Regions from separate parts of the Homo sapiens genome. Here regions 2 and 3 are each reported to be linked to region 1. The links are microRNA targets in miRTarBase. Many come from high-throughput screens and were not tested one by one. Region 1 holds a microRNA gene; each other region holds the end of a gene's coding sequence.

Region 1 (4,193 bases):
AAACATCGTAGAGGCCTGTGGGGAAGGAAAGATAATTAGTCCATTTATTCTTCTTGATTCTTTAAACATCCTTGGACATCATGTTGGGTCTCTAGAGAATTACTGTCATTGAACTGTCTGTTGTCAGGCTATGCTTAGGAACTCCTTAAAGAAATAGCCCCCAAAAACTTTTCCTGGAGTCTAACATGAGGCTGTCATAGAGGGTGTCCTCTGTCATGATCACCTTTAATTAGCCATCATTTTTTAGACATCAGCTTTATGTAGCTTAAAGCAATGCTTTCCATTAGAACTTTCTGTGTTCTGTATTTATAATGTGTAATATGGTAGCTACTAACCACATGTGGTTATTAAACACTTGAAATGGAAAATAAGGCTAAGGAACTGATTGAATATTTTATTTTATTGTAATTCATATGAATTAACATTTAAATAGCCTCTCGTGACCAGTGCCTACAGTATTGGATAGATCAAACTCAGATTATTAAAACAGTGATAGCCAACCTGTATGTAAGAGACCTGCCTCACTCAGGTCAACTCGAACCACATATGGTCAGTTTCTGGTAGTAAAAGAGTCTATAGATTTTTCTGAACAGTATTTCCTGCCCTGGATCAGGGGTCACTAGGTTATGGTAGGCCAAAGATAGGACACTACAAAAGACAAAGAGAGGGACTAATTCTGTCTGGAGTGAACTGGTGAAGTTTCTATGGAGTGTTTAATTTAATAGAAACCTTGAAGCATGAGTGGGAGCTCATCCGCAGCATGGTGGGCTCACCGGAGCCTGGGCAAGTGCTCATGCGTCTAAACTGCTCCACTGGCCTCCACCTGCTACTATTTATCACGCTCCTTTGTACAGGGTTAATAAAAGGACTAAGCTGAAAGACCACCATTCTAATTTGGAACATCTGGAGACATCAGAAGGCCCATTAGAAGACCCTAAACTTCTAACTTTTTCTTTCAAATACTCTGAAACGAAATCCACCAACTTATGAATACTATCATTTTTTTGGTGGTGGAATTCCACAGGACTCCATTTTGTTCACCATTCTTGAAGCATCAGTAAAATAATAAAGATGATTCCCACTCCCTCTTTTTTTTTTTTTGAGACGGAGTCTCACTCTGTCGCCCAGGCTGGAGTGCAATGGTGCACTCTTGGCTCACTGCAACCTCTGCCTCCTGGGTTCAAGCAATTCTCCTGCTTCAGCCTCCTGAGTAGCTGGGATTCCAGGTGTGCACCATCACACCCAACTAATTTTTGTATTTTTAGTAGAGACAGGGTTTCACTCTGTTGGTCAGGCTGGTCTTGAACTCCTGACCTCGTGATCCGTCCACCTTGGCCTCCGAAAGTGCTGGGGTTACAGGTGTGAGTCACCATACCCGGCCCACTCCCTCTTTTTTCAGAGAAAAAACTGGAACCTGAATGAGTGACCTTGTAAGTGAGTTGCTGGCAGTTTCTACCTTTGCAGAGACCAAGTTCTTCCATCTACATGGCCTTGTGTTGTCCTCCCAATACCCCAAGGCATGGATGTTTTCTTCATATTTCACATGAGGGAGGTGACTGTCTCAGAGAGGTACAGTGAGCAGACCAAAGTCTCAGAGCGTGAAGGGCTCAGCTTGAGTCCCTGCCCAGGGTGCTGTCAACCCGGAGGCTAGAAGAGCTTGTTCCTTGACAAAGCCTCAGATCTGAGTGCCCTGGGTTCCCCCTGGGCCATGACTTGGTTCCTTACATTGCTCTGTGTTGCAGAATTCATGCTGGACTGCACCGTGCCTCCCCCAGGGAGTGCAAAGATAGCCCTTGGAGGGGAATGATGGAGGAGGAGGCAATCAGGTAATGAGAGGCCATTCTGAGCTTGTGGGAATGTAGTGCCCCTGGTGAGGCTACAGGAAGAAAGTGAGCATCCCTGGGAATCTCACATGAGGAAGGCGAGACCAAATCCCTGTACTTACAAAATGATCTAGGAAATATGCCTCAGTTGGCAGGCATGATGACTTCTGAGCCCTTGTGTTTGATTCTGTAGAAGAAAAATATTTTCAAATATTAACTAGTGAAGTTTTACTTTTAGAGATATATATTTTTCTTTCAATTACTTCCACCATTAATATTAGACCATGAAGCTCATTTCTCTTGCCATAGGGAAGGCAGAACCTCAAAAAACTCAATGACACCAAAGAGTTATATTTATGCTTCTGCATTCCAATGTAGAGCATTGAAAGATGTGGAATTTAATTGCAAGGGCTAGTCTCTTCAAAGAGAAGTGGTTGCCTAATCCCCAAAATTCACAGCAATTATGTTGGCAAGTAATGTTTTAAAGCTTACATGGATTGTCTATTTTAACCTCACTATTATTGTTCCAGTCTTAAGGATGAGGAAGTTGATGCCCAGAGAGAGGTTAATTAGCTTGTCTAAGATCACTTAAGGTCACTTAGCTAAGAAGCCAGGATTTGAGCCCAGGTGTTTGGCTTTGAGCCCATGCTTAATCACTCTGCACATTATCTCATGCTGGGTATTCTGCTCATGGTAGGGAATACAGCAGGGAACAAGACTGCCAGGCTTCCCTCAAAGGGCTCATTGGTTGAGTCTTCCACTGTGAGTCTTTTGAAATTTCATATGGGCCTTGCAAAGCAGGAAAAAACAAGAGTACTTATTTTACTCATGAGAAAAAGAAAGTAAAAAAGAGGGAATTGTCTTACTCAAGGTCATAGAAAGACATAGTTGCAAGATGGGATTAGAAACCATATGTCTCATCAGCACCCTATGTCCTTTCTCTGCCCTGGGAGCACACTCCATTTAGCAGGCTTGCGGCTAGTGTTAATGTCTGGACAATTAATCAAAACTTCCTTTGGGCTGGATCTCCAGAGCCCAAGAACACTGGTGGCCAAAGGATGGTGTCTTGTGAAAGGAGGGCAAGCAAAAGTGTAGGACAAATTTTGCTTTGGGATTTTGGTTACACCTGCAGGTACAGTGTCCCTGGGATAAGGGTGGATTCTGGGTCGGGGGAAGGTCTGTGGATAAAGGCATTTGTGGGTGTGTTCAGAGAGGCAGAGTCAGAAATTCACGGATATGGTGATGGGATGTGGTGATTGGGAGGGGAGGAGGGCTTTTCTAATCAGGACTTTTATGGAAATTATCCTTGGTCAAGAGAAGGGGCATGTTGGCAACATGGCCACCAAGGAAAAAAAAAAAAAAGGAGAGATCCAGCACAGTTGCTGGTAAGGGACTCTTCTGCTGGGCTCCCACCAGCAGCTCTAGGATCAGACCTGGATATGAGATATCTCTTACCTGTTGCGCTTTTGAAATGTTTCTGATGAACAGACTATCCCACAGAAGGAGGAACAGCACTGAAATCCTTTCTCGCAATCTTCCTGCATTGTACACAGGTGAGTACAGTTTTCAGGTGCTGATATGCAGGGTGGAGGTTCCAAGATATACTCTGGAACACAGAACAAGTAAGAGAAGGGCCTCACCAACAGGCTGGAGTAATGTTCAGAACTCAGAAAGCCCAGGGAACTGCCAGGAAACCTGCCACCCTCATCTGCCTTGCATGGTTCCAGGGTGGTGGCATCAGGTTTTGTCCTCAGCTGCTGCCTTCCTCTGAGTTCTGAGCAGGGAAGCAGGGCATGGATATTTTTTGATCAAGAACAGAGTTTGGTAGAACCCTGCACCCATTGGTCATTCACCATCCTTGTAGTTCAGATGCCAAGCCCCCATTGACTATGGTTGTGTCCATATCAAGGGTATCAATGGTGTATGTGGTGAACAAGAAAGAGGTTTGTATGTTCGTTCTGCACTGATTCATTGTGTGGTCTTGAGCAAGTTGTAGAGCTTCTCATTAACAACATAGTTTACCCTGGGGTTAACCTAACATGGGTTATTTGTGTACAGGAAGAATGAGTGAAAGGTAAGTTTTGGTAAAGGATGAAGACCATGCATTAAACTGAAGGTACTGGATCAGAGAGCTGGGACCCAATTCACAAGTAAGTTCTGGGAGTGACTTCTTTCATGGTAAGAAGGGTGGGGATTTCAGAATGGCGTTCAAAGATTCAGCTTTTTTCTTCCTTGGTGTCTCTCGATCAGGAGGCCAGAGCACCAGGATGCCCCACTTTCTACTGTTAGAGAAGAATAAGCATCATTATGTTGACTTCCTATTTCCTCCCCTACCCCCAAGTATTTCAGTTCAAAGCTAAGACCTACCTG
Region 2 (4,193 bases), not on the chromosome of region 1:
GGATGACAGGCTGTGCAGAACCTGAACAGGGTTAAAGCTACAATGAGAAGCCATAATTTTGTGAGTTTTGCTGAGACCAATTCTCCATCCTGTCATAATTAGAGAACCCGATGCTGATTATTTTTTAAGTTCCTAAAATTGATCTTTTTTCTTTTCTTTTTTTAGGTACACAACAAAACATTTGAATGATGAGACTACCTCCAAGCAAATTAAATCCATGCTGCAATAACAATTCTGGAATAAGCACCTGCTGTAGACAGAAGACAGTATTCTGCAATGACTGAGAATGCAGTTTTTTAGTGATTGCAATTACTATCTCATTTATTCTTGCTTTTATTTCTTTCCTCTGTTCCTCTTCCCTCTTTTTTAATCATGTTCTTAAGACTTCTTTTCTGTGCCAAAATCAGTAAAGTTACACTCTGAAGGGATATCATCCTTTCAAACGGGCCATCTAAGGCAGCTAATTATGCATTGCATTGGGGTCTCTACTGAGAAAAATTCTGTGACTTGAACTAAATATTTTTAAATGTGGATTTTTTTTGAAACTAATATTTAATATTGCTTCTCCTGCATGGCAAAACTGCCTATTCTGCTATTTAAAAACCCTCAATGACTTTATTTTCTACTGCCGCCTTTTTCATGTGCAACCAAAATGAAAATGTTTAAATTAACTGTGTTGTACAAATGGTACCCAACACAAACTTTTTTTAAATTAGTAATACTTTTGTTTAAAGTTTTAAGTTTGCATTTTGACTTTTTTTGTAAGGATGTATGTTGTGTGTTTAACCTTTATTAACTAACGTTAAAAGCTGTGATGTGTGCGTAGAATATTACGTATGCATGTTCATGTCTAAAGAATGGCTGTTGATGATAAAATAAAAATCAGCTTTCATTTTTCTAAGTGTGGCTTGGTTTACTGATGTTTTGTTTTTAGGCTTCTGAAGTTTTCCCCATGTATGTTTTTATGGAATGCATATATACATTACATGATTTTTTCTTCTTTTAGGGGAGAGCCGGGTCTTTTCATTAGAATTTTGATCATTGTCTATGTATATACTTTTAATTGCCTTTAAAATTTTGCTAAGTATATTAAGACCAGTGATCTTTTCATTAACTGGACTTTTATTCTTGATTTACTCTTGTATGGATGTAGTAATGGAAGGAAAACCGCATCCTTGCTTGATTCTCCATTTCCAGGGGAGCGGGTAGCAACATGAAGGCAGAGTAGCCCTTTAATCATGGGAAGAGAGTGATTATAAGAGGGACTTCCCAGGAGAAAAGCAGAGGCCATGATCTCACTAGTGGTAGAAAACTAACAGGTTTCAGTTTAAGATCATAAAACCTAAATCATGAAATCTAAATCTCATGGTTGGAACAAACTACTTAAAGGTTGTCTAGTTCAACCATGCCAGTGTTTTAAATATTTAGGAATATCCGAGGTATAATACAATTAAAATGTTTAACCATGGAAGAGAATCACAGAGGCTTCCATCAGACCCTTCTGGATTAATAGGGCCAGATCATGGCACACACAGCTTCTCAAGATCACATCCCTGCTGATCTCTCTGGCCCTCCTGATCACTGCTCCCCCACTTCACACCCTGTCCTGCAGCCAGGCCCTACTGCTTGCTGTTCACAAATTGTTCCATGTGATGTCACTTCCTTAGCTCTGGTCTGGCTGGTCCCTGAACCTGACATTCCCTTCCTCCCCTTGTGACCCTCTAATGAACGCCAACTTTCATCTTTGAAGGGTTAGCTTCTATTACCTCCTTCATGAAGCCTTCTGGATAACATTGGCCATATCCTTCTAGGCATCTTCTAAGAATAGTGTAATAGGCTGAATAGTGGCCCCCAGGAGATACATTCACTGGGAATCTCCACGTGTGACATTATTTGGAAAAAGTTTTTGCAGATGAAATCAAGGACCTGGAAATGAGATCAACCTGTAGTAGGGTGGGCCCTAAATTCAATGACTAGCTCTTAGAAAAGAAGGGGAAATAGACACACAGAGCTGAAGGCCATGGGAAGATGGAGGCAGAGATTAGAGCAATGCATCTATGAGCCAAAGAACCCTAAGAATTGGAGGAAGTCACTAGAAGCTAGGAAAACAGGCATGTCACAGATTCTCCCTCAGAGTCTCGAGAAGGAACCAACCCTACCAATATCTTGATTTCAGACATCTGGCCTCCAGGATTGTGAGGGAATAAATTTCTGTTGTTTTAAGCCATGCAGTTTGTGGTATTTTGGTACAGCAGCCTTAAGAATCTGATACATGTATCTCGTAAAACACCTCTGATACTTACCTGCGCTTGTGGCTGTGTTTTCTGATACTATGAGAGCCGTAGTATCTGGATACCGGAGAGTCTGCGAACTTGAGAGAAGGGCCGTGTCTGATTTTCCTTCAGTGTCCCAAGGAAGGATCTTGCACAGTACCCAGATTTGGAGAGGTGCCAAGTGAATGCTTCGGTGGACTGAATGAATACAAATCAAAAATAATGATGCAGCGGGAATGGATGCAGTAAGATTGCTGTGGCCTATGCAGTTCACACAGTTCACACTCTGCATGTTGAGGAGTAAGTGGACAGATCTCTTAAGCCCAGGGGCTAGCAAACCGGTCTGTGGGCCAATTTACTCACCGTCTGTTTTTGTACAGCTTGTGAGCTAAAAATGGTTTTTAAAAAGGTTGAATACAATCAAAAGAATAATATTTTGTGGCATGAGAAAAGCATATGAAATTCAAATTTTAGTGTTCATAAATAAAATTTTATTGGAACCTAAGCCTCACTCATTTGTTGACACATTATTTATCGAGACTTTTGCATGACAGCAGCAGAATTGAGTTGTGACAAAGACCATATGGCCCTCAAAAGCTAAAATATATTTACTATCTGGCCCTTTCCAGAAAGAATTTTCCTCTCCTTCCACTAGATCCAAGAGTAGGTTTATCTGAGAACCTAGTGTGATTGAAGCTGAGGGCTGCAGTGTGATCAAAGGAGACAGCTCTGCTGCCAAAAGATGATTCAACCTCAGAGCTAGTACTTGCCAGTCAGATAGCCAAAGAGAGCAAGCAGGCATCTTCTCTGCCAACTCTATCTGTAGTTCTCATGTCTGTCCTTGGAGTGAAGTATTATGGGGGGTAGGCATGGACTTAGCCAGTGTATTAGTCCATTTGCACACTACTAATAAATACCCCAATACTGGGCAATTTATGAAAGAGAGGTTTAATTGACTTACAGTTCCATGTGGCTGGGGAGGCCTCACAATCATGGGAGAAGGTGAAAGGCACATCTCACTTGGTGGCAGATGAGAGGAGAGCTTTTGCAGGAAAAGTCCCCCTTAAAATAACCATCAGATCTCATGACACTTACTGTCATGAGAACAGCACGGGAAAGACCTGCCCTCATTATTCAGTTACTTCCAACTGGGTCCCTCCCACAACACGTGGGAATTCAAGATGAGATTTGGGTGGGGACGCAACCAAACCATATCAGCTGGGATTAATTACTGCCCACTGGAGGGAGGTATGAGTCTGCTCTGGTGTAGGTAAATCCTTTGAACCCCAGTCTAGTCTCTAAAACGCACCTGGTTAGTGTGCCTATGCCCCAGCCTTTCTTCACAATTTAGAGAAATCCATTGCCTCATCTCTTCCACCAAACATGCCCATAATTAACTCACCACTGCCCCATTTCCACAGCCCTCAACATAGATAAGTGGAACTTTTCAACTGGCTGGCTTCTCACTTTAAAGATTTGGGCTAAGAAGCATTCTGGACCATTTTAAGATTGCTGCAAGTATTTTAGACTTGTCATAAGGATTAATGACATTTGTACTCAAATCTAGGTCTTTTGAGTTGAAATGTCCTTCTGGTTCCATTTGAGATTGCAGTTAACTGCAGTTTTGAAGTTCTTACTGTTCGAAGCATATTTTAAACTTCAGAGTAAGATTCAATCATAGAAGGTACAATGCGAAGATCTGTGGGTCAAGGGTCAGGAGACCCAAGCCATATCTCTTCTTTGAAACTCTATTTTCCTCATCAGTACAATGAGAAAATTGAAACAGATGATCTCTAACACTGATTCCATGTCTCATATACTGTCTGCAAAGGCAGTAGTAGTTTGAATACTTAAAAGACAGGCTTTAGGCAGTGGAGTGTAGTTTATTCTGGTCTCCCTCTTTAACTCCGTATGACTTTG
Region 3 (4,193 bases), not on the chromosome of region 1:
TGGCAGGAGGGTCGCTTGAGCCCAGGAGTTCGAGACCAGCCTGGGCAACGCAAGGAGCCCCCATTTCTACAAAAAATTAAAAAATTAGCCAGGCATGATGGCGCGCACACGTTGTCCCAGCTACTCTGGAGGCTGAGGCGGGAGGAGGATCGCTTGAGCCCAGGAGTTCGAGGCTGCAGTAAGCTGTGATTTCGGCACTGCACTCCAGCCTGGACGATAGAGCGAAACCCTGGCTCAAAAAAAGAAAAATTAAAGAAAAAAAAAGAGCATCAGCATCTTCTGTGTTTATAACGATGCAAAAGCTGACACTCCACCTTCACATGAGTAAGTCATTAGTTAAGGAAGTTTTCCCTAGAGGATTCTGGGTGTGAGGCCTGCACTTGTCTTCGTTAAGGCGTCCCCGCCAGCACGCGTCCGATTGTGGTGACCACATCCCCATTGCTACAACGGGGACATCGAAGCACAGAGGGTCGGGGCTTATAGGAGGCTGCCCTGCAAAAGACCCCTGACTCCTGTCTTTTCCTGCAGTGTACCACTGGCTGGAGATGCGGACCAAAATGCGCATCATGGGTTTCAATGCCGCTGCCATCAAGCCGCTGAACGAGGGTGCAGCCGCCGAGCTGGGCGCGGAGCTGCTGGGCGAGGGCATCATCTTCATCACCGCCTGCAGCTGCCTGATGCTGGAGTATTGGCGCCACCAGTTGCAGCAGCGCCGCAAGGAAAAGGAGCGACGTGTTGCCAGGGAGGCGCTGCGGGGCGAGGTGGGCCACTTGGGGCTGGCGCTCGAGGAGTTGCAGGCGCAGGTGCAGGCGACGTCGACGCAGCTCGCCCTGGAGGAGCTGCGCGCTCAGCTGCAGGAGGTGCGAGCCCACCTCTGCCTCCGAGACCCGCCGCCTGCACCCCCAGTTGCGCCGGCGTCCGAGAAATAGGAGGTCTCGGGGCCCTGGTCTTGGAGGTGACTGCTGTCTGGACTGCGAAGTCTCTGTCTTGGCCTATTCTCCGCACTGTCCCATCCTGGACCGGCCCAGCTGACACCACCCAGTCCTTCGGGGGCGCCGGAGAGATCCTGGGCTGGAGCTGATCGAACCTCCCTACTAACCTGCCCAGTGGTACCTTCCACTGGGACTCTCCGCCTCCTGCAGGTGGAACGTTCCAAGAAGGACCCCGCCCTATCCCACCCCGCCCCTGCCAGCGCATTTGTTGAGCACTTTGGAAAGACAGCGTCTTTTATCAGACCCCACCTCCCTACCGCTAGGTAGGCCAGCAGGACGTCCACCTCTTTTGGCAAAACAAAATTCTGCACCCGGATTTAGCCACCTCTCATTCTGTCACCCGCACCCTCACTCACCTGAGTGGACCCTTCCCCTAGGACGCTCATCCTTTGCACCGAACACCACCTACCTCCTCCTCATTGGTACAGACCATTGTAAAGATGCACAAAGTTCCTACGGACTTCCCGACCCGCCCCCTTCCATCTACCTCAGTCTTAGGGGGAAAGGTGGGGGTGAATCCTGGACTGCGTTAGCTCCAATGAGTCACCACCCTGCGGCTCCTGACCTTAATCCATCTTAGTACCTGTCATTGACATCCTCCCCTCCCTGAGTGGATCGATCCAACATAACCCCCCTCTTCTTCCACCTATGGCGCACCCCACTGGCATGGCTATGCTGGGTCTTCCAGGGAAACGCCTCCCAGCCCGGCATTCTGTGGTCTGTTCCAGCAGGACGTGGCCTTTTGGGAGGAAAAACCGGTCTTGACCAGGGCTAGTCCATTCTGGCTTTCAGGCTCAGTCACTTGGTCACCAGTCCCCAGTCCTGGACCTACTGCTACTGTCCTTTTATCCGGTCCTCCCTCGCTGTCCTCTTCAGTTGCCTTTGCTAGGGACCGGCCTGTCCCTTTACTACCTAAGTCATCGTCAGTTCGCCCAACTTCCCTCCAAATCTGCCCCTCACGGTACGCAGGGATCGCCCTTCCTTCCTGCCTTTGGACTGGTCCAGGTCCTCCTCCGCCCTCCTTCACGCAAAGGCCTCCTCCAGGGGGACTACCTGTCCCTCAGCCCAGAGGTCCCCCTGTCCAAGCGGGGTATTCCACCAGGCCATATGACCTACCCACCCGACAACTGAAGGGGGCGTGGATGAGCTCTGTGACTCTGAATGCTACTTTATAAATCGACTGTCAGCGTTTTCTAATTAAAGGAGCTCTGGGGTAAAGATCTTAAGAACGTGTCTGAGAACCATAATGTGCGTCTGCAAAATGTCATTGAAATTAGGAAAGAAGGCCGGACACAGTGGCTCACGCCTGTAATTCCAGCACTTTAAGAGGCCAAAGCAGGAGGACTGCTGGAGGCCAGGAGTTAGAGACCAACCTAGGCAACACAGCAAGACCGCATCTCTACGAAAAATGAAAATATTAGCTAGGCGTCATACCAAACGCCTGTAGTTCCAGCTACTTGGGAGGCTGAGGCAGGAGGATCCCTTGAGCCCAGGAGTTCAAGGCTGCAGTGAGCTGTGATCCTGCCACTACACTCCAGACTGGGTGAAAGAGCAAGACTCCAACTCATTAAAAAAAAAAAAAAAAAAAAAGAGGAAAGAAGCTGGGAGAGTGGTAGAGTGGGGGCAGAGAATCATCTTATGAGCCCTTTCCCAAATCAGAAACTGAGGCCTGAGGTAAGCAAATGGACTTGCCCAAGGCTACACAAAGTGAGGCTGCTTCTGGCCTCCCCTAGGGTGGTGAAGGGCAGGGTGGGATGGGGAGGAAGTGGCCTCCTAAGGGGCATGGGGAGGGAGGCTGGAGGGGGCAGAGATCATCCTGGCTGCGGGCCTGAGGATGAGTGAGCAGGCGCAATATGCAGGGTGGGAAGGAAGATGAAGGGAAGGTGGATTCCTGGGAGGAGGCAGGGGTTCTCAGCAGAGGACCAAATCTTCCTGGAGGGGCACCGGGGGCCGAGCACACCTCCATCCCCATCAGAACAGGCCTTCAAATCACTCCAGAGATCTTAGCATTTATAAAAACTGGCAGATTTATTCTGCAGGGGCCCATTTTCAAGAAGCTAAAGGTGAAGGTGGGAGGGGAGAAGTTTCCTCCCCTTCTCCTTTCTCCCTCATCTTATTTCCTCCAAGGGGTAAAAAAAATGGCCTGGACCCCAAAACCTACCCAAATAAAAAATCAAAAAACTGAGGTTCCAAAAAGTTACAGCATCTTATTTCCTCATAGAAAAGGGGAAGGAGCCAGAGGGAAGGGGAGTCCCTGGGGTGGGGGGATATCTCACCCCCAGCCCGGTGAGACATCCCCTCCCCTTAAATAGCTGCCCCAAATGGGGCAAGCCCAGGGCTATAGCATTTAAAAACTCCCACATCCCATTTTATCAAAACCAAAGAGAAAAAAAAATTTCCCTTTTCCCCCAAAACCCAAATATATATATATTTTTTTTTCTTAAAAAAACCAAAACTTTGAAGGCATTAAGCGTTAAAGTGAATCTAGAACAAGGGAATGTGAAATTCCCTCCTTCCTTCCCCCTTCCTGTGGGGTTCATTGGTGCATCCCCAGCAGAGGGACCGGCCCCAAGGGGATGGCAGAGGGGAAGGACCAAAGGGAGAAAAGGGCGGGGGCCTCCCCAGCCAATCAGCAGCCAGTGTGGGTGTGAGCAGGGAAGCCACACCCCCTTGGAGTTTTCCAAGTGGGATGGGGAGTGGGAACGATGCATTCCTGTGTAGTCTTCAGCCAATTCCAAGTCAAGTAGAGGCAGGGAAAGCAGGGTGACAGGCCGGGTGTGCGGAAAGGAGAAGCGGGTCTTCTGGGTCCCTGTGGTCAGGGAGAACCCCGCTTCCTCAGCTCCTGGACGAAGGCTGGAAGGAAACAAGGAGCAGAGGTCAGGGGCAGAGTCTCTGCCTCCTCCCTTCCAAAACAGGGCTCTTGCCCAGGGACATGATGCCTCCAAAATAAGTAAATGTTTAAGAACAAAACCAAAGCAAACCACCTCACCTTCAATGATTTCCTCTTTCACTTTCTGCAATTCCTTCTTCACCTCTTCCAGAAGCTCCTAAAATTAATGGGGTAAAACTAATCAGGAGGGGGTACCGGGACTTGCAGGAATGAATCCCCCTTCTTTTATTTTTTGAGAAGGAACCTTGCTCTGTTGCCCAGGCTAGGGTGCAATGGCATGATCACAGCTCATTGCAGCCTCAACTTCCCAG

Evidence for each region. Region 1 holds the annotated microRNA hsa-miR-3617-3p (CAUCAGCACCCUAUGUCCUUUCU, at 2,742-2,764, shown strand). A microRNA usually pairs through its seed, bases 2 to 8, with sites in the 3' UTR of a target mRNA and lowers its output. Matches are read on the target gene's strand: a 7mer-m8 pairs with bases 2 to 8, a 7mer-A1 pairs with bases 2 to 7 and ends in A, and an 8mer does both.
Region 2: the mRNA of CYRIB is a reported target of hsa-miR-3617-3p. Seed matches in the 3' UTR shown: 7mer-m8 at 1,555-1,561.
Region 3: miRTarBase lists VASP as a target of hsa-miR-3617-3p. Seed matches in the 3' UTR shown: 7mer-m8 at 3,621-3,627.

What each region holds. Positions count from the first base shown.
Region 1 is chr20:45,703,680-45,707,872 of GRCh38, reverse strand. MIR3617 (microRNA 3617) reads left to right here and starts at 2,693; the gene lies at 2,693-2,771. WFDC10B (WAP four-disulfide core domain 10B) reads left to right here and starts at 2,854. Exons shown (of 4, transcript NM_172006.2): 1 at 2,854-2,955; 2 at 3,312-3,376. WFDC13 (WAP four-disulfide core domain 13) reads right to left here. Exons shown (of 4, transcript NM_172005.2): 2 at 3,279-3,429; 3 at 1,946-2,010; 4 at 1-15. The coding sequence ends at 1,968.
Region 2 is chr8:129,838,178-129,842,370 of GRCh38, reverse strand. CYRIB (CYFIP related Rac1 interactor B) reads left to right here. Exons shown (of 14, transcript NM_001353258.2): 14 at 166-2,778. The coding sequence ends at 229. Among named protein-coding and RNA genes, the nearest start is that of GSDMC, 54 kb to the right of the region's middle.
Region 3 is chr19:45,525,792-45,529,984 of GRCh38, reverse strand. It overlaps VASP (vasodilator stimulated phosphoprotein), which reads right to left. Exons shown (of 13, transcript NM_003370.4): 12 at 3,982-4,039; 13 at 3,002-3,845. The coding sequence ends at 3,808. It also overlaps a transcript of OPA3 not described here. Among named protein-coding and RNA genes, the nearest start is that of VASP, 20 kb to the right of the region's middle.